Linked DNA regions of Homo sapiens. The protein of the gene in region 5 purifies or fractionates together with the protein of the main gene of each other region. This does not show direct contact. Each region holds a gene or a part of one and is shown on either strand. Other genes may lie near its edges. The genes, in order: EPB41L3, LRRFIP1, CLTCL1, ACTR2, EEF2K, RBP1 and UBE3C.

The links.
Region 1: the proteins of EEF2K (region 5) and EPB41L3 purify together in Homo sapiens (affinity purification with mass spectrometry; 2 studies listed by BioGRID and IntAct, with this or other methods). This does not show direct contact.
Region 2: the proteins of EEF2K (region 5) and LRRFIP1 fractionate together in Homo sapiens (co-fractionation; one large-scale study listed by BioGRID). This does not show direct contact.
Region 3: the proteins of EEF2K (region 5) and CLTCL1 purify together in Homo sapiens (affinity purification with mass spectrometry; one large-scale study listed by BioGRID and IntAct). This does not show direct contact.
Region 4: the proteins of EEF2K (region 5) and ACTR2 fractionate together in Homo sapiens (co-fractionation; one large-scale study listed by BioGRID). This does not show direct contact.
Region 6: the proteins of EEF2K (region 5) and RBP1 purify together in Homo sapiens (affinity purification with mass spectrometry; one large-scale study listed by BioGRID and IntAct). This does not show direct contact.
Region 7: the proteins of EEF2K (region 5) and UBE3C fractionate together in Homo sapiens (co-fractionation; one large-scale study listed by BioGRID). This does not show direct contact.

What each region holds. Positions count from the first base shown.
Region 1 is NC_000018.10:5,533,998-5,537,497, reverse strand, and holds part of EPB41L3 (band 4.1-like protein 3), read left to right. Parts: intron 1-3,500. UniProt on the Homo sapiens protein: Tumor suppressor that inhibits cell proliferation and promotes apoptosis. Modulates the activity of protein arginine N-methyltransferases, including PRMT3 and PRMT5.
Region 2 is NC_000002.12:237,634,087-237,637,586, forward strand, and holds part of LRRFIP1 (leucine-rich repeat flightless-interacting protein 1), read left to right. Parts: intron 1-3,500.
Region 3 is NC_000022.11:19,232,720-19,236,219, reverse strand, and holds part of CLTCL1 (clathrin heavy chain 2), read left to right. Parts: intron 1-350; coding exon 351-524; intron 525-1,513; coding exon 1,514-1,711; intron 1,712-2,597; coding exon 2,598-2,798; intron 2,799-2,901; coding exon 2,902-3,054; intron 3,055-3,500. UniProt on the Homo sapiens protein: Clathrin is the major protein of the polyhedral coat of coated pits and vesicles. Two different adapter protein complexes link the clathrin lattice either to the plasma membrane or to the trans-Golgi network.
Region 4 is NC_000002.12:65,251,831-65,255,330, forward strand, and holds part of ACTR2 (actin-related protein 2), read left to right. Parts: intron 1-1,897; coding exon 1,898-2,034; intron 2,035-3,500. UniProt on the Homo sapiens protein: ATP-binding component of the Arp2/3 complex, a multiprotein complex that mediates actin polymerization upon stimulation by nucleation-promoting factor (NPF).
Region 5 is NC_000016.10:22,258,278-22,261,777, forward strand, and holds part of EEF2K (eukaryotic elongation factor 2 kinase), read left to right. Parts: intron 1-216; coding exon 217-418; intron 419-2,184; coding exon 2,185-2,252; intron 2,253-3,500. UniProt on the Homo sapiens protein: Threonine kinase that regulates protein synthesis by controlling the rate of peptide chain elongation.
Region 6 is NC_000003.12:139,536,943-139,541,014, reverse strand, and holds the start of RBP1 (retinol-binding protein 1), read left to right. Parts: upstream 1-1,272; 5' UTR 1,273-1,296; coding exon 1,297-1,555; intron 1,556-2,055; coding exon 2,056-2,234; intron 2,235-4,072. UniProt on the Homo sapiens protein: Cytoplasmic retinol-binding protein. Accepts retinol from the transport protein STRA6, and thereby contributes to retinol uptake, storage and retinoid homeostasis.
Region 7 is NC_000007.14:157,141,926-157,145,425, forward strand, and holds part of UBE3C (ubiquitin-protein ligase E3C), read left to right. Parts: intron 1-3,500. UniProt on the Homo sapiens protein: E3 ubiquitin-protein ligase that specifically catalyzes 'Lys-29'- and 'Lys-48'-linked polyubiquitin chains.

The DNA.
Region 1 (3,500 bases), on a different chromosome or scaffold from region 5:
GGAGACAGATGGTCTTTAGTTAATGGAGTTATCCAAAATTTTGCAGAAATTGAATGTGATGTTTTTTTCTCTCAATGATTGATATTTTGGCAATTCATTCCATCTTTTTGTGGGAGTATTTAACTGAGGATTAAATACTACTTTTGGATTGTTTAAGGTAGAAAATGAGATATACGAAATATGGGAAGATTTTCCTTATCCTTTCAATGAATGTATCTCAGTTATTTGAGATATTAAAAATAATACATTCTCACTTTAAAATATAGTCTAACAATACAGAAAAACCAAAAAAGGCAATGTCATTATCTACCTTTCTGAATGTATTACGTATCAGAGTGGAATAGGACACACCTGGGTTGGGCTCTCGGCCTTGCTATTTAATAACTATGTGGCATGGTTCTTTTAACTTCCTAGAGCCTGTTTGCTCGTTTATAAAATGGGCATAATGCTTATATCTGAAGGATATGAGGATTAAATGATGTAATACATGCAAACACTGAGCACAGTATCTGGTATATCACAAGTGCTTCATAAATAGCAGTAGCATCATTTTGTACATATACAGACTCATATGTAGATTACATAATATTTTACATGAATAGACTTCTGTCTTAAATACTTCTATGTAACCATTTTTTGTTTGTTTGTTTCGTTTGTTTGTTTTTTGAGAACAGAGTCTCACTCTGTTGCCCAGGCTGGAGTGCAGTGGCACGATATCAGCTCACAGCAACCTCTGCCTCCCGGGTTCAAGTGAGCCTCCCAGGTTCAAGCGAGTCTCCTGCCTCAGCCTCCCAAGTAGCTGGGATTATAGGCAACCGCCACCCTGCCCAGCTATTTTTTTTTTTTTTGAATTTTTAGTAGACATGGGGTTTTACCACGTTGGCAAGGCTGGTCTCGAATGATCCTGACCTCAAATGATCTGCCCGCCTTGGCCTCCCAAAGTGCTGGGATTACAGGTGTGAGCCACCGCACCAGGCCAAATTTTTTTTTTTTTTAAATGTAACAGTATGTCTCGGAGGAGCTTTTTCATGCATGCAAATCTATACCCACATCATTATTTTTAATGGTAAATAAATATTTTCTTTTGGTCTTGTGCAATATTGATAAAGGATCATTACCTTAATGATGGTGTTGATGTGAAGCCTTGTTGTCCAGCCCCTCTGCCTCCTTCTGCTTGCTGCCTACACTTCATGACTCTCTTCTAATATACACATCAGGAGGCTTGTGGTAAAACAGGATATTTAAAAAAATTAAAATCTCTGATGATTATTATGTATATCTCAATGTTGTGTGTGAATATTGAGTTCTAACAAACTAAAACAAGCAAATTTTCACCATAGATTTCCTGACTTTTTTAAATTTAGATTTTAATGTCATCTCTTTATAGAGGGGCGAGCTCATCCAGCAAAGCCTAACCTGAGTTCCTGGGTGCCCATCATTCTCCCATGTGCCTCTTGGCATGCCTCGAGGGACAGCAGATGCAGCAGTCTGGACCTGAACTAGACTCTCCAGAATCAAAATATCCAGGGTCTGGGATAGTTTAGTAGGTGTACGGGGTCACTGGGCTCCCAGAGATGGAAAATATTAAGCTTCCTTTGATCTCTCTCTGAGTTCCCAACCCTTCCTTCGTCCTCAACAACAGAATGGTAACAAATGTCATATTCCATTCACAGATTTTATGCCACCTCGTCAGGGATGTGGGCTGCTCTGTTATGTTATTCACAATCCCATGATTTTGACTGATCTTGGATTTACTTGGAATCCAGTCTTCATTCACCAATTTGGGGAGAATAGCTTTATGATCCTGAAGGTGGTGCTAGCTGGAATGGTGCACCCAGGCTTCTGTGAGATGATGCCATCGGGGCATCTAGAGGTCTCAGGCTGGCCCGGACAGTTGCATATTTCTACGTAATTTTTTCCTAGAGTTACTAACATCCCAGAGATATAGGGAGTTTTGGGTAGTTTCATTACAGAGAATTATTCTTGATGAATTTTGGTGTTTTATACCATTTTGTGCTACTCAGTGACAACTTTTATTAACTTTAGAAGGAATATGCTTACTGGCTAAGTATAAGACTTGGAAAATAGAGATTGACTAGGTTGTCTGCTCAAGAAGTCTGGAAAACTTTTCCTCTGAATTCTTGAAATGAGAGCAGTAATTCATTGGGGGGAGTTATATTGTAGAACAGGGGTCCCCAACCTTTTTAGCACCAAGGACCTCCATTTTGCTTACCTCCTGCTGTGTGGCCCTGTCCTTGGCACAGAGGTTGGGGTTTCATGGAAGACAGTTTTTCCATGGACGGGGGTTGTGGGGGATGGTTTCAGGAAGAAACTGTTCCACTTCACATCATCAGATTCTCAGAAGGAATGCACAACCTAGATCCCTCACGTGTGCGGTTCACATTCTCACATTCTCACTCAAGAATGTGAATCAAATGCCACTTCTGATCTGACAGGAGGCGGAGATCAGGTGGTAATGCTGACTCACCCACCGCTCACCACCACTGTCCTTGGCCCAGTGGTGGGGAATCCTTGTTGCAGAATAAAGAAAATACAAAGAGCTAGAGAAGATACAGATGGAAACATCTGCTAACCTTGAGCTAGGTAACTGTGGGAGGAGTACTCTATTTCTCTAGGCAAGGTTCCCCAGAGTGAACAGATGACGATGCTGCCTACCTCCAGGTTGAAATGAGATCTGTGTTTGAAGACATCTAGAACCAGTCTAATGAGAGTATACACATAGTACATGTTTTCTCATTTCAGTAGTATATGCTGTTGTCCTCTTTGCTTGTTTTTAGGGACATGTCTTAGTAATTGTAAGATCCAAAGATGACCCTCAGGATGAGTGTAGAATTTTGTGACATTCCACCACAAAACCCGTAATCCAAAAGATGGCCCTCTATGAGAATGCAGAATTTTTTGAGTATGAAACTCCAGATAACAGTAGAGGTTTGCAAAGAATGAGACACAGTGGTTATACAACAGAATTACCTGATGAGTTTATTAAAAAGGAATTTTTGGGGACCAATCCACGGATTATCATCTAATAGATCTGCAGTTGGATCCAGACCTCCTTATGTCCCGACAAGTACTTTGGTGAAATCTGATCCAGGTGGTCCCAGGACCACATTTTGAGACACACTGTCTTAACGACTTTTGTCTTAATGACTTTCCAGCTTCTTCACTATTGTCAAATGAGCGTTTAACCTGGAAAGAAGATATAATATAAATAAATAGTACTAAGGTTGAAGAAAATGTTTAGCATAGAGCAAAGAAACCTGGCCTTGGACTCAGAATGCTTGGGTTTCTTTTTTTCTTTCTTTTTTCTTTTTTTTGAGACGGAGTCTCGCTCTGTCACCCAGGCTGGAGTGCAGTGGCGAGATCTCGGCTCACTGCCAGCTCCGCCTCCCAGGTTCATGCCATTCTCCTGCCTCAGACTCCCAAGGAGCTGGGACTACAGGCGCCCGCCACCACGCCTTGCTAATTTTTTGTATTTTAGT
Region 2 (3,500 bases), on a different chromosome or scaffold from region 5:
TCCTTTTAAAATATGTCAGATCATGCCACTTCTCTGATAAAAACTTTCCAAGGGTGTCTTGTATCACTCCGTAAAACCCAAGTCCTTAAACAAGCTACAAGACCCTCAATGATCTGGTAATGATCTCCTTGTTTATAAATAACATACATATGTATTACACATTAGTTTATCAATTGCAGATGCTGTCAGCTGGCTCCTGCATTGAAGGACGGGACTTGGTGTGCATGGGCCCAGTTCAGGCCAGCTCCCTACTTTCCTTCTCTGCATCACACTATAGTTCATTGTAGTGTGGGGCTAAATGAATATTCACTGGCAGGACAGACTGCTTAAGAATATGGGTGCTAGAATCAGATTTCCTGGGTTCAAATCCTGATTCTGTCCCTTATACCATGACTTAGGGCAAGTTACTTATCAACTTTGTGCCTCAGTTCCCCCATAGGTAAGATGGGAAAGTTTTAGGAGTATACTTCACCCAGGGCAGTTATGAGGGTAAATGAGATCTTTCACAAAAAGACCTCTGAACAATGACTGTCACATAGTAAATGCTCAGTAAATGCTGGTGATGATGATGATCTTGCCAGCTGTGTAAATAATGTCAATTGCAGAGCCAAGCAGTGTACTATAATCTTTCTTTCCTTATACAACTTTCTGCTTCTTCTAGAGTTAATGATTTATTTTCTTTTTCATTGCTCATCTGCCTACATATCTAGCTTATCTATCTATATATCTACATATCTCCATAAAGTTTTCAATAGAACCCATCAAAATGCTATGTTCTATATGATTAAACAAAGCAGATAATCTATCAATTCCATTTTATTCTCCCATGGAAATCTACCCACTAGAGACCTCTGTCCTCTAGATCCAGTCTGGTCTGGATGTTCTCCTCAGGGTTTCCTGCACCTGCCATTCCCTCTGCCACCATTCTGAGAATTTCTTTTACCCCCTTTTTATTGTTGTTGTTAGGTCCCTATTTTCTGGATTCCATATTATCTGCCTTCTTGGATTGCTGTCTTATTTTGCTGGAACACATCCTTCAGTAGCTTTCGGAGCAAGAATGCCTTTTCTAAGTATTCACATGTCTGAAAATGTCTTTATTCTACATTCATACTTGATTGATACTTTGGTTGTGTATAGAGTTCTAGGTTAAAAATAATTTTCCAAAAAATGATGAACTCTGTGTCTTCTTTGACATAATTTCCAGTAAGTATTGTTAATTGGAAAAAGTAATATACAGAAAATAAAGATAGCATGCTGTTCCTTGTGTGAGAAAGGCTGCAATTTTCCTGCATTTGAATAAAAATCACTGGCAGAACACAATGAAAGGAGTGTGGGGATGGAGGTGGAAGCAGGTTGTCAAGTGCCACTCTTCATGCTCTTGATATTTGAACCATGTGACTGTATTAACTAGTCAATAAAATAAACTAATAAATATCAAAAAAGTAAAATTAGGAGCCAGGCATTATGGCTCACACCTGTAATTCCAGCAACTCAGGAGGCTAAGGTGAAAGAATAGCTTAGGACCAAGAGTTCAAGTCCAGCTTGGGCAACAAAGTAGGACCCTTCCTTTAAAAATATATTTTTTTTATTTAGCTGGGCATGGTGATGCATGCCTGTAGTCCTAGCTATTTGGGAATCTGAGGCAGGAGCATCGCTTAAGCCCAGGAGTTCAAGACCAGCCTGGGCAACATAGTGAGACCCCCATCTCCACAAAAAAGAAAAGAAAAAGTGAGTGGGTGTGGTGGCTCATACCTGTAATTCCAACAATTTGGGAGGGCAGTGAGTGGATCACTTGAGCTCAGGAGTTTGAGACCAGTCTGGGCAACATGGTGAAATCCCTTCTGTACTAAAAATACAAAAATTAGCCAAGCATGATGGCTTGTGCCTATGGTCCCAGCTAGTTGGGAGGCTGAGGTGGGAGGATCACTTGAGCCCAGGGGACAGAGGTTGCAGTGAGCTGAGATCACACCCCTGCACTCCAGCCTGGGTTGACAGAGCAAAACTCTGTCTCAAAAAAAAAAAAAAAAAATTTAAAAGAAAAAGTTTGGAAACTTTTAGGATCTTCTCTTTATTCTCAGAATTCTGGATTTTTCCCCCACTTATTGAGCATTCATTGGGTTCATTCAATCTGGAAACTTGTATCCTAAAATTCTGGGAAATTTTCTTGAATTTTTTCCTAGCCCCATCATTTTTTCTGTTCTGTCTTACAGTAATTTCTGTAAGACAGAACAGAAAAAGAAGTAATTTTTCATTTTCCTTTCTTTTCTTTTTTTTTTTTTTTTGTCTTTTGGTAATACTTCAAGGAAGATTCTTCAACTTTACCATCCACTCCCTCTACTAAGTTTACCTGTTTTATATTGAATTGCTAAGTTTTTTTATTGTTCTTTATCTCTATAGCATCCTTTCTTGACTCACTAATGCAGTACCTTTTCTTACTACTCTAAGGATATTAAGCAAATTCACTTAATTTGGGGGTTTTCCTGAAAATTTTTTTGTTCCCTGCATCCTGGTCTGTTTCTTTTCCTCCTTTGTGTGTTTTGGCCTCTGTCATCTTGGAGCCTTTCTCAGATGTGTGGTGATCCTCAGCTACCCTTTCATATTTTAGAGGGAGGCACTAAACATGGTGACTACAATTTGAGCAAAGGCCAGGAAGAGAGATGTCACAAAGTGTGAACAGGAAGCCACACAGGGCGGCTGAAGTGTTGGTACCAGACAGTGGTTCCTCAGGCAGGGGCAAGCAGCTCTGATTTGAACCCAGTCTCTTGCCTTTGAGGCCAGTGCCCTTGACCACCATGTCAGTGTTAGGAGGAAACATTGCTTAATGTTAACCAGTCAGACTTCTCTAATTTGGTGCCTGCAGGTGGAGTTTTGTTTTTGATTAAGGGACTAGTAAGGCTGGAAAAGAAAGTTGAAAATTAATCTGAGACATACACCAGGGAAGAACGGCTAACCTCTAGTGTCTACACAGCTCAAACAAAGGAACCCATCATTATGGTATTCTTTTACTGAGAGCGAAATAAAATGTCAAATTAGCTGAGCAAATAAAGATAGTAAAACAAAAAAATATGAGATTTTCATAGCTTCAGGCATCAAGAATTGGGCTGGGCATGGTGTCTTGTGCCTGTAATCCCAGCACTTTGGGAGACCAAGGCGGGTGGATCACCTGAGGTCAGATGTTTGAGACCAGCCTAACCAATATGGTGAAACCCCATCTCTACTAAAAATACAGAAATTAGCCAGATGTGGTGGCTTGCACCTGTAGTCTCAGCTACTCGGGGGGCTGAGGCAGGAGAATTGCTTGAACCCAGGAGGCAGAGGTTGCAGTGAGCCAAGATCACACCACTGCACGCCATCCTGGGCAGCAGAGCGAGACTCCATCTCAAAAAGAGAAAAAGAAGAAGACAAAAAGCAAAGGAATAATTCATTTATTTGCTTGGAAAGTTCTCTAAGATCTGAGATATACTTTCCATAAAACAAATAAAATACCTGGAGAGTTTAGG
Region 3 (3,500 bases), on a different chromosome or scaffold from region 5:
AATTCTCAATCAAGTACAACTTAGAATCCATGTCTCAGGAAAGCATTGCTCCCACCAGTAATCTCTCGGCCTGAGAAACTGAAGAATCCTTGTATAGCTAGGTGTGGCAGCTCACACTTGTAGTCCCAGCTACATTGGAGGCTGAGATGGGAGGATCACCTGAGCCCAGAGGTCGGAAGTTGCAGTGAGCTATGGTGGCACCACTACACTCCAGCCTGGGTGACAGAGCACGACCCTATCTCAAAAAACAAACAAACAAACAAGAATCCTCTTTATCATTTGTGAGCTCTTTTTACCCGCATGGCTTCTCCTCCTTACTTTCCAACCTCTTGCTCTCTGTCTTCTTATAGATTGGAGCTAAACATGGTGTTATTTACTTGATCACAAAGTATGGCTATCTTCATCTGTACGACCTAGAGTCTGGCGTGTGCATCTGCATGAACCGTATTAGTGCTGACACAATATTTGTCACTGCTCCACACAAACCAACCTCTGGAATTATTGGTGTCAACAAAAAGGGACAGGTGTGTAACTCTGACATTTCATTTTCTACCTTTTCCATTCATTAGGGACTGGCGTTTAAACTTTCCCCCTTCTCTAGGAAAGCAGCTGGGTGTAGCTATTAATAGTTCCTGTTATTAAACTTAAACCCATGTCTCCTCCTTCATATTGACACTTCCTCTCTTCAGACAGCACCATTCCTAACACAGGATTGATTCCAGGAGGAGAGCAGCTCCTTCCTGCGTATAGAACAGCAGTTCTGATGCACATCATCTTTATACCATGCACACCCTAACTGGGGAGGGTTGAAAAAGCAGATACTATGGTATTTAAGTAACTTTTCTCAACCATAGTTGAAAAAGATAGTTAAAAGAAGAAACTCTTGGCTGGGCACAATAGTTTATGCCTGTAATCCCAACTGCATGGGAGGTTGAGGCAGGAGGATGGCTTGAGCCCAGGAGTTTGAGGCTGCAGTGAGCTGTGATCACACCATTGCACTCCAGCCTGGGTGAAACAGTGAGAGCCTGTCTCAGGGGAAAAAAAAAAAAAAGTCGGGAACAGTGGCTGATTCCTATAATCCCAGCACTTTGGAAGGCTGAGACAGGAGGATTGCTTGAGGCTAGGAGTTTGAATCCAGCCTGAGCGACATAGTAAGACCCTGTCTCTACAAAAATATTTTTTAAAAAAGAAAGAAACTCTGTACTTTAAAAATAAAAAGTTTAAGAAGAAAAATTGTCAGTTCCATCCACATAGGTCATTTTGCTGTAGCGCAGAACGCATCACACTTATCTGTGTGACTTTAATAACTACATAGACTCCTATGCTGTTCTGTTTTGTTACCATTTGGCTTTCGGCTGCTTTGCCTCCTTTCACTGTGAGGGCCACCATCACAGGTGTGCTCAACACTCGCCTGAGAATGTGGCTACCACTCCAGCATCGGAAGGGAACATGGCAGAGGGATGGTGGAGCACTCTTCTAGGCCGGGCTGCTCTCACTTGTTGTGTCCTTACAGGTACTGTCAGTTTGTGTTGAGGAAGATAACATTGTGAATTATGCAACCAACGTGCTTCAGAATCCAGACCTTGGTCTGCGTTTGGCCGTTCGTAGTAACCTGGCTGGGGCAGAGAAGTTGTTTGTGAGAAAATTCAATACCCTCTTTGCACAGGGCAGCTATGCTGAAGCCGCCAAAGTTGCAGCGTCTGCACCAAAGGTGATAAACCTTGAATACTGTTCAAGTGTTCTGAGTGTTAAGAACCAACCTTGAGAGGAAAATAAGTCATAAAAGCATTTCACTAGTGATATTGCAGTCTATTAGTGTTATGTTAGGAGTTTTTAGTTTAAAATTTTTGCACCAATGGCATAACAGTAAAGGAAGTAAACAAAAAACACACTCTTGCTGCATCGGCACTTCTTCACGCCTCCCACTTTGTGTGCATACGTACCTCTCACCCAACAGCTTAGATACAGTTTCACATTTCTGTAACTTAGCATTTTCCACTCTTGCTACCTGGTTGTCAAATATGCAACTGTACAATACATCAAGTGGTTGTTCCCTGTTTTATCTAGCGATAGTCCTACCCTGGACTTTCTCCACTCTTTTAGAATATAGCATTTCGGCATATGGCTTTTTCTTGGGTTTATTTCATTTGGATAAATTGTTCAGAGACTGGATCTGTTCCTGAGTAGATAAAGACTTTCAAGTTGCTTGTCCTTGAAAGAATTTTTCTTGTCTTTCAAGGGGTAGTTGTGAACAAACCATTTCTAGCCTTCATCTGTGAATTTGAGTATTTTGAATTAGAATATAATGATAGCAGAACTTCACTACTACAAGACTGATTGAGAGGCCGAATTCTTACTGCAGCATGCTGGGGGAGAAGTAAGACCCTAAGTGTGAAGCCACCTGGAGGACCTAGATTCCCCTATACTTATGGTTATTGTTGAAGATAGAAGCAGTTGCCTTGGTAGAGGACTTTTTGTCTATGACAGAGCAGTGTGGAATTTCCACTGGCAGATTTTTGTTTTTACATACAAGGAAGTTGAGTGAAGGGATCCCCTGTGATTACAACACAATGACCTATTTTTCCATTTATTATTAGGGAATCCTGCGTACCAGAGAGACGGTCCAGAAATTCCAGAGTATACCCGCTCAGTCTGGCCAGGCTTCTCCATTGCTGCAGTACTTCGGAATCCTGCTCGACCAGGGTCAGCTCAATAAACTTGAATCCTTAGAACTTTGCCATCTGGTTCTTCAGCAGGGGCGTAAGCAACTCCTAGAGAAGTGGCTGAAAGAAGATAAGGTAGAAACACTTGTGAGCTCGTAGCCCCCCCGCACAGCTTGAAAACTTGGTCCAGGCTCCCTACCTGCCTCCTAACTTTGCCTTGTCCCTTGGCATACCACAGCTGGAGTGCTCAGAGGAGCTCGGAGACTTGGTCAAAACCACTGACCCCATGCTCGCTCTGAGTGTGTACCTTCGGGCAAATGTGCCAAGCAAAGTGATCCAGTGTTTTGCAGAAACAGGCCAATTCCAGAAAATTGTGCTCTATGCCAAAAAGGTAACGTGTGTTGAACCACTGGCATCTCACAGATTACTCACGTGTGGTTGAGTGGTTGCTGATTTTAAAGTTTATAAAATACCCTTCTTTGTAAGTCCTCTGGTGTGAGAGTTGGCAATGTTGCTGTTAGGATCTTTATTCATAATGATCATATTTTATTCTCTTCAGCTTTTTATTATCCTTAGTTTTCCAGTCCTTCCATCTTCGTTTTATTTGGGAGCTTTATCTTGTTTTTTCTCTCCCTCTCTTCCTTCTGTATGTTAATTTGATATTTTGGCAGACTCCCAGATCTTATCCCTGTGTGCTTACTGGCAGGCTGTGTTTGCACACAGATCAGGAAACTTCTTTGTGGTCTGGGCTCTTTGTATAGTTAATTGTGCCTTCCATGTACATTAAATCAATTCATTTAATTGGATATTGTGTTTGGCAGAAGGTGGTACCTACAC
Region 4 (3,500 bases), on a different chromosome or scaffold from region 5:
TTAATGGAGGGGACTACTTATATATTCTCTTGATATTGCCATTAGCAACTGCCTCCCTCTTTATTGGAAATAAAATATTGGCCACGTTGGGAGAGCTCTTTTTTTTTTTTATGGTCTTATAAATTCAACAGGAACTTACTGAGAATGTCTGGGCCTGTCAGATATGTGCCAAGGAGTCTTTTAGGCACTTCAGGGGATAATCCAGTGGGAAAAGAGTGTGGCACTGGAAATGGGTCAAGTGTGTTTGGAGAAAGGCCAGTATGTGTGTGACCTGATGGAAGTGGTAGAAAATAAGGTGAGGTGGGTAGGGAGGGCTCTTTGGGAAATAAAATGTAAATTCTTGCATTAGTCAGTGTTCCTGGGAGTATTTTTGAATTGATGATGGTGTGAATTCCTCCTTTTTTTTTTCTTTTTTGCAATGGAAATCCTCTTCTTTTTAAAAGAGTACAACATTCAAGGGCTGTATATGAGTTTTATGAGGCTTATTGCATCAAGGAATTATATCCACTTAAAAAGGAGGTAGTTTTAGGCCGGGTGTGGTGGCTCACGCCTGTAATCCCAGCACTTTGGGAGGCCGAGGTGGGTGGATCACGAGGTCAGGAGATCGAGACCATCCTGACTAACACTGTGAAACCCCGTCTCTACTAAAAAAAAAATACAAAAAATTAGCTGGGCATGGTGGCATGTGCCTGTAATCCCAGCTACTTGGGAGGCTGAGGCGGGAGAATCGCTTGAACCCAGGAGGCAGAGGTTGCAGTGAGCTGAGATTGTGCCATTGCACTCCAGCCTGGGCGACAGAGTGAGACTCTGTCTCAAAAAAAATATGTAAATAAAAATAAATAAAAAAAGTTTTTTTGACCAGGTATGGTGGCTCATGGCTGTAATCCCAGCACTTTGAGAAGCCAAGGTGGTCAAATTGCTGTATCTCCAGAGTTTGAGACCAGCCTAGGCAACATAGTGAGATCCCTATCTCTATAAAAAGTAAAATTAGCTGGGTGTGGTTGCACATGCCTATAATCCCAGCCACTTGAGAGGCTGAGGTGAGATGATCACTTGAGCCCAGGAGGTTGAGGAAACAGGGGAAACAAAGCAGCTTCTTTGCTGTTCTTTTATTATGAGGTTTAACTGACATTGCCTTTTATTATAAGTTCCAGTGAATAATCAAAGTGATGCTTTGGCTAGCCATGTTTAATTTTTCTTAGATTTCTAGCTGTCTAGTATCAATAGGCATTTTTCCAGAACACACAGTATATGTTATTTGTAGTATATTCAAAACTATCTAAGTTGAAAAAAATAAAGAATTGTACAGAGCTTTAAGAACGTGTTCTGCTGGGTGTGGTGGCTCACGCCTGTAACCCCAGCAGTTTGAGAGGCCAAGGCAGACAGATCACTTGAGGCCAGGAGTTCGAGACCAGCTTGGGCAACATGGCGAAACTCTGTCTCTACAAAAAAATTACAAAAATTAGCCAGGCATGGTGGTGCATGCCTGTAGTCCCAGCTGCTCAGGAGGCTAAGGTGGGAGGTATGACTTGAACCCAGGAAATGAAGATTGCAGTGAGCCTAGATTGAGCCACTGTACTCCTCCAGCCTGGGTGACAGAGCCAGACCCTGTCTCAAAAAAAAAAAGGAAAAAAAAGTCCTGTTTTTCAGTCCTCAGTCTCAGGGTCTGTTTCTTCTCATCTCCTTGGACAGCACATAATAGTAGACTAAAAGTCTTAAAAGAGAACACTCGCTTTAATACTTATGCATTAGAAACAAACTGCAAAATAACTAAATAATAAATTCTGGCTTCTAGTTGGTTACGTTTCTGTTTTGGCTTCCCTACTGTATTTGGAACTCGCTGGCTTTGGTTTTCCTGATTTGACTTTTTATTTAAATCCCCCTGGCTTTTATGCAGGTTTATTGACTGGTGTAGTGGTAGACTCTGGAGATGGTGTGACTCACATTTGCCCAGTATATGAAGGCTTTTCTCTCCCTCATCTTACCAGGAGACTGGATATTGCTGGGAGGGATATAACTAGATATCTTATCAAGGTAAGTGAAAGGAAAATATCATGGAAATTAAATTTTGTAATTTGTTTACCACCTTAACACAGAATTGAATCTATCGTTTTAGGATTCCAGCAAATCTGTACCACTAGAGAAATTATCCAATTACCTCCCTTATTTATATAAAAATTCATATAAGATTTATACACATGAAGAAAAAAGAAGATACATTAAAAACAAGGAAAAAAGTGTACACACATGATCTCTGTATACTAATGAGAGTACATTATATCATTACATAATTATATTTGTTATTCCTGAGGAGTGAGTAGACAGATATTTCAAGGATAGAAGAGACCCCTAATTTGAAACTTTCTTGGACAGCTCAGGCAGCCTTTTCTGCCATAAAACCTTTCTTTGAGCAGGTATGTTTTAAGCCATGATCTTGGTTGGGTTGTCTGCTCTTGTCCTTTCCTACAAAATACAGTGATAGCAAATTAATGATATTTGAGGAAAACAGCCCAAATACGCCAGACTTTAATATTTAGTAGTTTTCATGGAATAGATGCAGTTTTTAATATTTACTATTTTAGTTTATTTCTGAATATAACTAGTTATAATTTTCTTTAAAACATTACTGGAGAAAGTACATAAGGTGTCTACTTGCTAACATATATCATTTTTAATATTAAAATAAAATTTAGAAAATTGTTTATACCACAATTCTATAATCAGTCTATCCTCTCCAGGACAGTGGTTCTCACCAGGGGACAGTGCTGTCCTCTGGGGGATATTAGCAATTTCTGGACACATTTTTGGTTGTCTGAGCTGGGCAGGAATGCTACTGAACATTCTATAATGAATAGGGCTGGCTGCACAACAAACAATGTATAGTCTGTCAGTGGTGCTGCTATTAAGAAACCCTGTCTCTGCATTAAATTGGGTTGCACTGTCTTTACCTTGACATTGGGTTCCTTCAGTCTCATTTAAAGTAATCCTCCTCATGAGGGGAGATTAAATTAATGAGAATTATAATACTCTCATTTTAGGCCAAAATTCAAAGCGTAACTAACAGAATTTCTGGGGTTGTCTTTAGAACACAGACTCAAATATTAGAGGATTTTTTTTTTATTTGTAAAGTCTAGTAATTTTTTTTCTCTCAGTGGGTTTTTAAAAAAATAGTAGTATTTTCTAGCATTTAAGAAATGTAACAATGGAGATTATACCTTTGAGTATCCCAATAATTCCCTTATCATTCGTTAAACAAATGCTATTGTCCTTCTAATATGTGCCAGACACAGTACTAGAAGCTAAAGATAAAACTTTTAAAGACTTGGGGGCATTTCATAAATATGGCATTAATTGTGTGAGCAAACTGCAGGCTACAGGAGTCCAGTACTAAAATAATATTTATTCATTAATATACTTTTGATTGTTTATCAAAACTATCAAAACATTAGTACTCATGCAGTGCTTTTCAAAAACTGACTTTTCTAGTCATTTTACTGACT
Region 5 (3,500 bases):
GTCCTCTGAGCCTCTGTTCCAGATGCCCTTTCTTGGAGGCCTTAGGTTTAATCCCTGACTGATTTTTTATTTTTTAAGACAATATATCAGCTCCTAAACAGGCATGTTTAGGAGCTGTGGATGAAGGGGTTTCAGGGTTAGAGGGAACAACAGGAAGAGCCCTTTAATTCCCAGAGGGTGTGTGCGTGACATGAGTATCCCTATTAATGTCCCTAGCAATCAGCCAAGACCATCTTGAGAGGAACAGAGGAAAAATGTGGGAGCCCCCAAGTAAGGACCCTCTCTGGGAGCCGGCCACCCCTGCTCCGTCCCCTTTCAGAGAACTCTGGAGACGAGAACATGAGCGACGTGACCTTCGACTCTCTCCCTTCTTCCCCATCTTCGGCCACACCACACAGCCAGAAGCTAGACCACCTCCGTGAGTGACGGTTCGGTCCCTAGTCACTGTGATTGGAGGGGACAGGTGGAGCAGAGCTAAACCAGCTTTCATTTATGTTAGAAAAATCAGACATGCTAATCGAAAAGGTTCATGGCCCCAGTGGTTTTATAGGTGAGTTTCATTGAGTGAACTTTCAAAACAGATCATCCAAATGCTATAAAAACAACCCCTATTGTAGGAAACAAAGTAACTTTTATCAGTGTGTTTTATGAAACCAGCAAAACCTATATAATAAATTTGACAAACTAAAAAAGAAAATTATATCCCAACCTTATTTAAAATTTGTATTTGTGTATAGAGAACAAAAAAAAAATCTAAATAGATATTAACAAATAAAAATAGTACTATGTTAAAAGGTTCACCTGTCACAGTTAAATAGGGATTTCACAGGAATCTGAGGGTTGTTCAATGTTAGAAAAGCTATGAATGTGATATTAATGGGTCAAAGGAGAAAAACAGAATCATTATTTCTGACACTGAAAGAGTGGAGTTTGCTGATGATTCAGATGAGAGTCTGTAGGAAAGGATAGAGGCAAGACTGACCCCAGGGTATTGGCCTAAAGAGCTGGAGGTCATGTATTCAGGGAAAGTGTGAGCGGGAGCAGGCTCAGAGCAGGAGAGCAAGATTTTATTGTTTAGTTTTTTAATTTTTCTCATTTTGATACCTTTGAAAGAGAGAAAGATTTTAGTGTCAAACATTAAAGAAGCCCTTTAGATGTTTCCACTGGAAGGTCTTTGGAATAGTCTGGAACAGGAGTCAACAGACTTTTTTAAAAGGTCAGAGAGTAAATATTTTAAGCTTTGCAGGTCATTCAGTCTCTGCATTTGGAGCATGAAAGCTACCATAGAAAATATTAAGTGAGTGGATGTGGCTGTGTTCCAATAAAACTCTATGGATGGTGAAATTTAATTTTTGTCATCCATTTAAAAATGTAAACACTGTTCTTACAAACTATAAAAACAGACAGATAGATTTGGCTGTAGAGGGCAGGAGACAGAGATAGGGAACCACCAGGAGATGGTTGGTGTTTTTTTTTTGTTTGTTTTGTTTTGAGACGGAATCTCTCTCTCTGTCACCCCGGCTGGAATGCGGTGGCGTGATCTTGGCTCATTGCAATCTCTACCTCCTGGGTTCAAGCGATTCTCCTGCCTCAGCCTCCCAAGTAGCTGGGATTACAGGTGCATGCCACCATACCCAGCTAATTTTTGTATTTTTAATAGAGATGGGGTTTCACTATGTTGGCCAGATTGGTCTTGAACTCCTGACCTCAGGTGATCCACCTGCCTCGGCCTCCCATAGTTCTGGGATTACAGGCATAAGACACCGTGCCCAGCTGAAGATGGTTTTGAAGCTATCTGAGGCCCACTTCTTGAGCCCCAAATGTATAAACGTCTGTTCTTCCTTCACAACTGCATTTTATTGAGGACCAAGTGGTGGCCAGGCACATATGCTAATAAACACATTACAAGGATAATTGCATTGTGACAACCCTGAGGACACACATAGGTGACACCACTTGGCCAGAATCATGTAGCTGGCAAACAGCAGACTTAGAATAAGTTCTCAAGGAAGAACTTTAGCCTCCAGGTGCTGATAACATTCTTCTCCTTTTTTGTGCCTTTCTTTAAAGCTTAAAAAAAAAAAAAGGCTTGGTGGCAGGTATGGACCGCCCTAGGCCGTGGGTTGGTCTTATGCATGTTCCAGTAGTGGAACCAGGACATGATGTCTGTTTCTCCCTGCCCAGATTGGCCAGTGTTCAGTGACCTCGATAACATGGCATCCAGAGACCATGATCATCTAGACAACCACCGGGTGAGTGTGAAGGGAGGGAGGCTGCAGGCTTCAGACCCCAGCAGGGGTAGGAGTGGATTCACTCCCAGAGTGAATCTTCAGCTTCGGAGGTGGGCAGCCTAGCCCAGGCACTGCCAGGAGGGCACAGAATGGGGGAATTAGGGAGGATGCAGATGAATGTCAGCCTCCAGTCCAAGGCTGAGCTTTCCTCTGAGAAAAGGTGGGTCCCTTGCAGTTCCCAGAGATGGTTAGGGAAGAGGGACTCCCAGTCAGCAACAATGCGATCTTGTAGTAAATGCCAGTCTCAGCTCCAGGTTTGGTTTGACCCCACATGTGTTGGTTGTCCTATAGAGCCCTAATACTGGGTCTTAGATGTGTAACACATAGCACAGTAAGCCATGTGTTCTAGCTCTTCACACCTAGCTCTCCAGTTAGATAAACAGAACATTTCCTGAAGCTTTGGGTTGACTTGGTGGTAAGAAACTGAAGGCATCTTATCTGCATTCTCACAAATGTATATTATGGCAAATTATAATACTCTCTATGCTTGTGTGTGTGTTTGAAATATTTCTTAGTAAAATTGGCCAGGCATGGTAGCTCATGCCTATAATCCCAGCACTTTGGGAGACCAAGGTGGGCAGATCACTTGAGCCCAAGAATTTGAAACTAGCCTGGGCAATATGACAAGACCCCCATCTCTACAAAAAAATACAAAAGTTAGCCAGGCATGGTGGCACATACCTGTAGTCCCAGCTACTCAGGAGGCTGAGGTAGGAGGATCTCTTGAGCCTGGGAGGCAGAGGCTGCAGTAAGCCATCATCACACCACTGCACTCCAGCCTGGGTGACAGCGAGATCTTGTCTCAAAAAAAAAGAAAAAACAAATACCTTTTAGTAGAGGCTGGGCGCAGTGGCTCACGCCTGTAATCCCAGCACTTTGGCAGGCCAAGGGGGGCAGATCACTTGAGGTCAGGAATTTGAAGACCAGCCTGACCAACATGCCAAAACCCCATGTCTACTAAAAATACAAAAATTAGCCGAGTATGGTGGCAGTTTCCTGTAATCCCAGCTACTCAGGAGGCTGAGGCACGAGAATTTCTTGAACCCAGGAGGCGGAGGTTGCAGTGAGCAGAGGTCGCACCACTGCACTCCAACCTGGGCGACAGAGCGAGACTCAGTCTCAAAAAAAAAAAAAAAGAAATACTTCTTAGTAGAGGCGGGGTGTGGTGGCTCACACCTGTAATCCCAGCACTATGGGAGGCTGAGGCAG
Region 6 (4,072 bases), on a different chromosome or scaffold from region 5:
AGCCTGCACTGTGAGAACACATGTGAGCCCCAGGGAGGCACCCTGGGGAAGGTGGTGCTAGAGGGGAAGAAAATGTTATCTGCTGTCACTTAGGCTGTGATTTGTGCAAAAAGCGATTTAAAAGAGGTAGTCAAAAAGAGGGTCAAAAAGTCAGCCCATGTGATTATGTCATCTACTTGGTGGCAAATGCAGTTAAACCACAATGACATACCCACGCAGGTGACAAAGGAGATGTGATCAAAGATTTTCATTGCAGTACTGCTTTTAATAGTGAAAGATCAGAAACAATATAGTTTGTCCATCAGGGGACAAGCTGGATAAGCAATGGAATACTCCGTAAAATAATGGGGATACTTTCTATGTACAGCTATGGAAAAGTCTCCAGAATATATTAAGTGAATAAAGCAAAGTCCAGAACACCGTGGAGTACAGTGCTGCCATTAGGTGAAACGGGAGGAAACATTAATAAACAGTATATTGCTTACATTTGCATAAAGCAGCAGTGGATCTCAAAGTTGATTGTGCATCAGAATCACCCAGAAGGCTTTTTTAGCCACATGCACTTCAAATAACATCAACTATTTTACTTATTTATTTATTTATTTATTGAGCCAGAGTCTCACTCTGTCGCCCAGGCTGGAGTGTAGTGGCACGATCTCGGCTCACTACAACCTCCTCCTCCCGGGTTCAAGCTATTCTCCTGCCTCAGCCTCCCGAGTAGTTGGGACTACAGGCGCCCGCGACCACGCCCGGCTAATTTTTTGTATTTTTAGTAGAGACGAGGTTTTACCGTGTTGCCCAGGCTGGTGTCGAATTCCTGACCTCAGGTGATCCGCCCGCCTCGGCCTCCCAAAGTGCTGGGATTACAGGCGTGAGCCGCCGTGCCCGGCATCCTTTCTTTTATTTTCGGGAGAGACGTGGAAAGTGCCCCAATTTTCTCGCCCGTAGTTGAACCTCCCAGCTTTCCTGACCCCAGCCACCACCGGCGCGAGGCTTTAGACAAAGGCCTGTAAGTGGCCTCTTTCCTTAATCACGCCAGCACAAACCCCAGGAGATTGTTTCCCAACTCCCGAGTGGCTGCTGAGTGTGAGAAGTTAATGGCGTTTGAAGGAAATCCCCAGCAGCCGAAGAGTTCGGCCAACAAAGCAAACGTCCCGTCTCCGGTCTCCTCTTCCTTTGTAGGGGAAACGAACTGAACGTCTGAAACGAAGGTGGCGCGGCCTGGACAAACCTGACCCTTCGACATCCCCCGCCCCTGCGCCCGCCCTCGCTAAGCGGGGAGGAGCGACCGCTACAATGGATCCTCCCGCAGGCTTTGTGCGCGCTGGGAATCCAGCTGTCGCCGCCCCGCAGAGCCCCCTGTCCCCGGAGGGCGCTCATTTCCGGGCCGCCCACCACCCGCGTAGCACCGGCAGCCGCTGTCCCGGCAGTCTCCAGCCGTCCCGCCCGCTTGTGGCCAACTGGCTCCAGTCACTCCCCGAAATGCCAGTCGACTTCACTGGGTACTGGAAGATGTTGGTCAACGAGAATTTCGAGGAGTACCTGCGCGCCCTCGGTAAGCGCTGCCCGCTGCGCCCTGGGCGCCCCGCCGAGCAGCTCCGGGCCGCTCCCTAGAGCCCTCCCGAGACGCTGCCTGCCTGCCTCCATCCCGGCGAGCCGCGGTCCGGTGCCCCCGGACGCCAGAAAGGGCGTCCTCGGCCACCGCTCCCAGGGCAGCCCCCAGGCTGCAGATTGGAGAATTCGGGGTTGTTAGGTTAACCGGTGGCAAATGTCTGCTCGTTGGCCCTGGAGGTGGGTAATTTCATTAGTAAATCTGGGGCTTGGTTTGCTACTTTTTGTTTTTAAACGGTTAACATAAGAGCAGAAAACTTTGTTGGGGGCGGCAGGGGAGGCACAGGCAGGCTGTGCGCAGAGACAACGCAAAGCCAGCGGGAACCCTAACAGTGTTCGCGGGCGGAGAGGGCTCCTGGGGCCCCGCTACCTTGGGAACGGTTCTCTGAGTTTCCCTGCCAACTCTCTGGCGCTCTCTCTCTCCCCGTTCAACCCCCACCGCAGACGTCAATGTGGCCTTGCGCAAAATCGCCAACTTGCTGAAGCCAGACAAAGAGATCGTGCAGGACGGTGACCATATGATCATCCGCACGCTGAGCACTTTTAGGAACTACATCATGGACTTCCAGGTTGGGAAGGAGTTTGAGGAGGATCTGACAGGCATAGATGACCGCAAGTGCATGGTGAGGATTCGCGTCCACCTGGTGTCTCCTGCCCAGGGGGCCTGACCAAGGGCTGGGCTAGTTCATCCGAGAGGGGGCAAGGGCCTGAGGGACTGAAAACTCTTCCCACTCTCAGCCCCCATGGTGGGCAGCACCAACTCATGAAGCATCCTGCTCTATCTACACTGGAAGGTGATGGTTATGAAGGCTGCCATGTGCTGTGTCTCCACTGCGTTCAGGCACTCTGCCCGGTGCTTTATGCACATGACTTCACCTAAGCCTCACACAGCCTTTGAGGGAGATATGAATATGCCCATTTTACAGATGAAGAAACAGTCTCAAAGAGATGAAGTAACATGTCCAGAGTAGCACAGCTAGGGAGGGTCTGGAGTTCAAAGCATGTCTGTTGATGCCGTTCTCTGGCTGACTGGGCTGGTGGAGGGTAAAAGAAAAGAAAGGAGGAAAGAAAAAAGAAACACAGGTAACCCCTTTGAAGTGTAAACTTTCAGTATGACTTAGTGTGAAGTCACTCCAGGAAGCTGGGGGCCCCTTGATCTCTGCTGGAAGCCCCCTGATCTGCCCATCCTTGCCCCAGAGCTGGGATTTGGCTCCTGGCCATCCCCTGCCCCACCCTGTCATCCAATGCCTACTGAGCATTCTTTGAACTTTGCAGCTGACACCTATTCAGTAAGTCAGGGCCCCTCCAGCCCAGACCAGAGGAAACAGCAGTGGGGGAAGAGGGAGGGCCAAGAGCTCCCTTCCACAAGGGTGGGAAACTCCTGACCCAGGACATCCCAATTAGTACTGCCACAGCAGATGCCGGAAGGCCAGCCCCAGGCCTCCATCAACATTATCTGGTTGCTGGGAGGTCAAGGTACTCTTGTTCTCCCTTTATAGTCTTGGGTTCAGAAGTGGCTTATGTTCATCCCAGGAGCCACCTTGCTTATTGATGGGGTCCTCACCCACCACCTCCCACCATTTACCAAGGGTCTTTACCGCTGGTCTGCTGTGTGTCCAGCACTGTGCTAGTCATCTTACAGCACAGCACAGTGAGGGAGGGATAAGTAACCCCATGTTATGCAGTGACTGAGGCTCAGACAGAGGAAGAGACTTGTAAGAGATGAGACTTGAGCCCTGGGCCTTCTGATGTTGAAGCCCACAGTCCTGCTTTCTGCCAGCTTCTCTGCTGGTAGTCTGTGCAGAAACAAGATAGCTGAGGTCTGTTAGGATTGTAGTTGAAGGGATGCCCATGTCTGGGAATAGGCATCTGGAGCCTGGATGACTCATCCCCCCACCTTGTCTATTCATCTGAAGGCAGTCAGGATTGGTATCTGAGTCTGCTGTTTGGAATGATGGGAAAGAGGGGGTAGTCAGCAGGGAGTGGCCTTGGAAGGACCACTAATGGGAGAAAACACCATTGTTGCAGAGAAATGTCAGGTTGTGCCTTTAAAAATCTCAAGGACTCTTAATCTGCAGGAAAGACTCACAATAGGAAAGGAGACCTTCAGATGGCATCTGCCTTTCTCATTACTGCCCAAGACCTGCTCCCCGGCACACTGCATGGAACTTTGCTCCTTAAGAATAATCCTTACCCCCACTCACTATTGTGGAACTCACAGATCACATCGAACCTTTATTTTGGGTCACCACAAATCTGGCATGTGCTGGCTTGTACTAATTATCTTCACTCTTTCCTTCCTTTCTTCATCCATTAACACATGAAACATTTATTGATCACCTAGTAATACTAGCAAATGCAGTACTCATCAAGTGCTTACTGTCATGCCAGATGCTATTCAAACGTTACATTAGCTGACTTAATCTTCACAACACCCTTTCAAGCCTCATTTTACAGATAA
Region 7 (3,500 bases), on a different chromosome or scaffold from region 5:
TAATACTCTTGTGCTGGGTCCTAGATGATACGCATGTTCAGCTGTTGTGCACACCGCTGCCACAGTTTCCCCGTGTCGCACGCCCACAGCATCTGAAGGTATCCAGGTTTCCACATCCTTGCCAACACTTGATATTGCAAGTCCTTTAATTTTAGTGAGGATGTAGTTTCTTTGTGGTTTTAATTTTGTTTCCTGACAACTAATTATGTTGAGCACCTACATATGCTTGTTTTCCTGAATTCTCTTTGACTGCCGCATAAGTCCCTTCCCTTGTTGGAAAAATGAAGTTATAGTGACCCTTTTCTCATGTCTTAAATTATTATTTGAAATCTTCCCTTTCTGGAGCTTAGTGGAAAATGGAGTGGTTACCACCTTTGAATAAGCTTTTTCTTTTTTCAAATTAAATACTTTTAGTATTTATTATTTGTATAGATCTGTGTACGACAAGTCTGACTTGAAGAAGTTGATAATCTTGTTGGGCAGATAAGACTTAAGCAATTAAAAATTAAATAACAATAGAGTAATTGCTACATTCTAAATTTCCCTTGGTCCTGATTCAGAAAAAGTAGAATTGTTTGGAGCTTAGTCCTGAAGGATGGGTGTAATTAGGATGGGTGGAAGACGAGAAGGCATTCCAGGTTCGTGGAGCGGGGTGTGTGGAGTACATGTAGATTGGATTACATTGATTCAAAGTCACTTTGGGGAGCTAAACATTGATTACACATGGACATAAAGATGGGATGATAGACACCAGGGACTACTAGAGGGGGAAAGAGAGGGACGGGGACAAGGGCTGGGAAGCTACCTGTTGGTAACTGTGCTCACTCCCCGGGTAATGGGATCATTCACACCCCAAACCTCCGCGTCCTGCAGTATATTCTTGTAACAAACGTGCATAGGTACCCCCTAACTCTAAAATAAAAGTTGAATTTTTTTTTTTTTTTTGAGATGGAGTTTCGCTCACGCTGGAGCGCAGTGTTGCCCAGGCTGGAGTGCAATGGTGCGATCTCAGCTCACCACAAACCTCCACCTCCCGGGTTCAAGCGATTCTCCTGCCTCAGCTTCCCGGGTAGCTGGGATTACAGGCCTGCACCACCACGTCTGGCTAATTTTGTATTTTTAGTAGAGATGGGGTTTCTCCATGTCGGTCGGGCGGGTCTCGAACTCCCGACCTCAGGTGATCCGCCTGCCTCAGCCTCCCAAAGTGCTGGGATTACAGGTATGAGCCACTGCGCTCAGCCTGAAATTTTTTTTTAAGTCACACTGATTTCTATCTTTAAATATTTCTGACATCGGGATACACACTGATAGCATGATGCAGTTTAATTGGGGGTATGTTTTTCTTGGTAGTGTATAGAAGAATATCACGGGGTCATCTGATTTCAAGTACAGAAATGGACTAAAACTAGCTTAGTAGGCAAAACAAAAAGAAACAAAAACAAGTTTATGAAAGGATAGGCGTGTCTGACAGAATAGAAAGGTCAGAAACACCCAGATAGCAGGTATCACCACCACAGGAGTTGCTTGTCTTTCTCCAGGAGCTGGGTGCACTCCCTTCTTCCTGTCTCCTTCATTCCTGGCTCTGCAGACTGGCTTTCTCCATTTCTCACACATGGTTTCCTAGCTTAAGCGTCAAGAAAGTTTGATCATAATTACCAGTTTTCAGGAGAGGAAAGTCTGATTGGCCTGGGTCATGTTTCCACCTGATAACCTCAGTCTGAGGAGGGCTTGGAGGCTTGGTTCAGATGGAACAGTCTAGGTGCACCTGAGGGCTGGGGTAGATTCTTCAAGAAGCGGGGAGTGGTCGTTGACTGAATGCCTGAGTTCCTGTGGGACAGGCACAGGAAGGAGTCTAGGCTAGAGATGCAGATTTGGGGGTTATCAACAGAATGGTGGCTTCGAACACAGGTCCTTAAGAGGACTTGGAGTTTGGGACAGGGTGGGACTCGTGAGGTACTGCAACATTTAATATGTGTGGGAGTTGGGGATACTTACAAAAGAGTCACACCTCCGGGAGTGGAGGAGAGTGGTGTCCAGGGAGTGAATCTCAGGGAGGGAGGAGTGACAGGCAATGCCAAGTGCTGCACAGACACAGTGAGTCCACTGACTGCGGAGCTGGGAAGAATTGGGTGATTTGAGCATATTCTGTAGGGTAGTCAGAGTTGGAAGTCAAGAGCATAGCACATTGGAGAGTGAATGGGAAGTCACAAACAGGGCCGAACACAGGCCGGATGCTGTGGCGCACGCCTACAATCTGCCACACCGAAGACTGAGGCGGGAGGATCGCTGGATCCCGGGAGTTCAAGGCTGCAGTGAGCTGTGATCATGCCATAGCACTCCAGCCTAGGCGACACAGCATGACCCCATCTCTTAAAAAATAAGGCAGGGGCAAGGCAACAGTGTAGACCTTTTTTGAAAAGCACCGGAAGATTGGATGATAGAGGGAAATTCGGTGTCTCGGAAATAGTTTTGTCTGTTTTGGGAGACGGGGGAAACTTAAGTTTATAGACTGGGAAGGACGGGGGTTAAAAATGTGGGGAAGACAGGAGTGGCATAACTTTCAGAGTCTTCGAGAATACCCGAGAGGGGAGAACTGAGTGGGAGCAGGCAATGGGAAATATTTTGAGACTTAAAGAAGCTAGGGATGAATATGGATATAGAAAAGTTTGTAGACCGGAGGAACTGAAATTTTTTAAGTTTTTGTAGATCTGACAATAGTGGGAGTAGAATTAAGATCACTTTAATGTTTGTCCAGTGCTTTTTTTAAAAAAAAATAGACTTTATTTTTTAGAGCAGTTTCAGGTTTACAATCAAGCAGAGGGTAGGGTTCCCATATGCCTAGTCTCCCTCACCTCACTTTTCTCTATTACTAGCATCTGGCATTAATGTGGATCATCAGTTACAATTGATAAACCAATGTCGATGTGTTATTATTAATTGAAGTCCATAGTGTACATTCAGGTTCACACTGTGTGTTGTGCATTGTGTAGGTTTTGACGAATATATGATGACATGTATCTACCCTTACAGCGTTATACAGAAGAGTGTCATTGCCCTAGAAATCCTCATTGCTGGCCAGGTGTGGTGGCTAATGCCTGTAATCCCAGCACTTTAGGAGGCCGAGGTAGGCAGTCAGGAGTTTGAGACCAGCCTGGCCAACGTGGTGAAACCCCGTCACTACTAAAAATACAAAAAATTAGCTGGGCGTGGGAGGCTGAGGCAGGAGAATTACTTGAGCCCTGGAGGTGGAGGTTGCAGTGAGCCTGGATTGTGCCAGCGCATTCCAGCCTGGGTGACAGAGCATGACTCTGTCTCCAAAAAAAAGAAAAAAGGAGGAGGCCCGGCACTTTGGAAGGCCAAGGAGGGTGTATCACCTGGAGTCAAGAGTTCGAGACCAGCCTGGTCAACATGGTGATACTCTATCTCTACTAAAAATACAAAAATTAGCCAGGCGTGGTGACAGGTGCCTGTAATTGCAGCTACTCAGGAGGCTGAGGCAG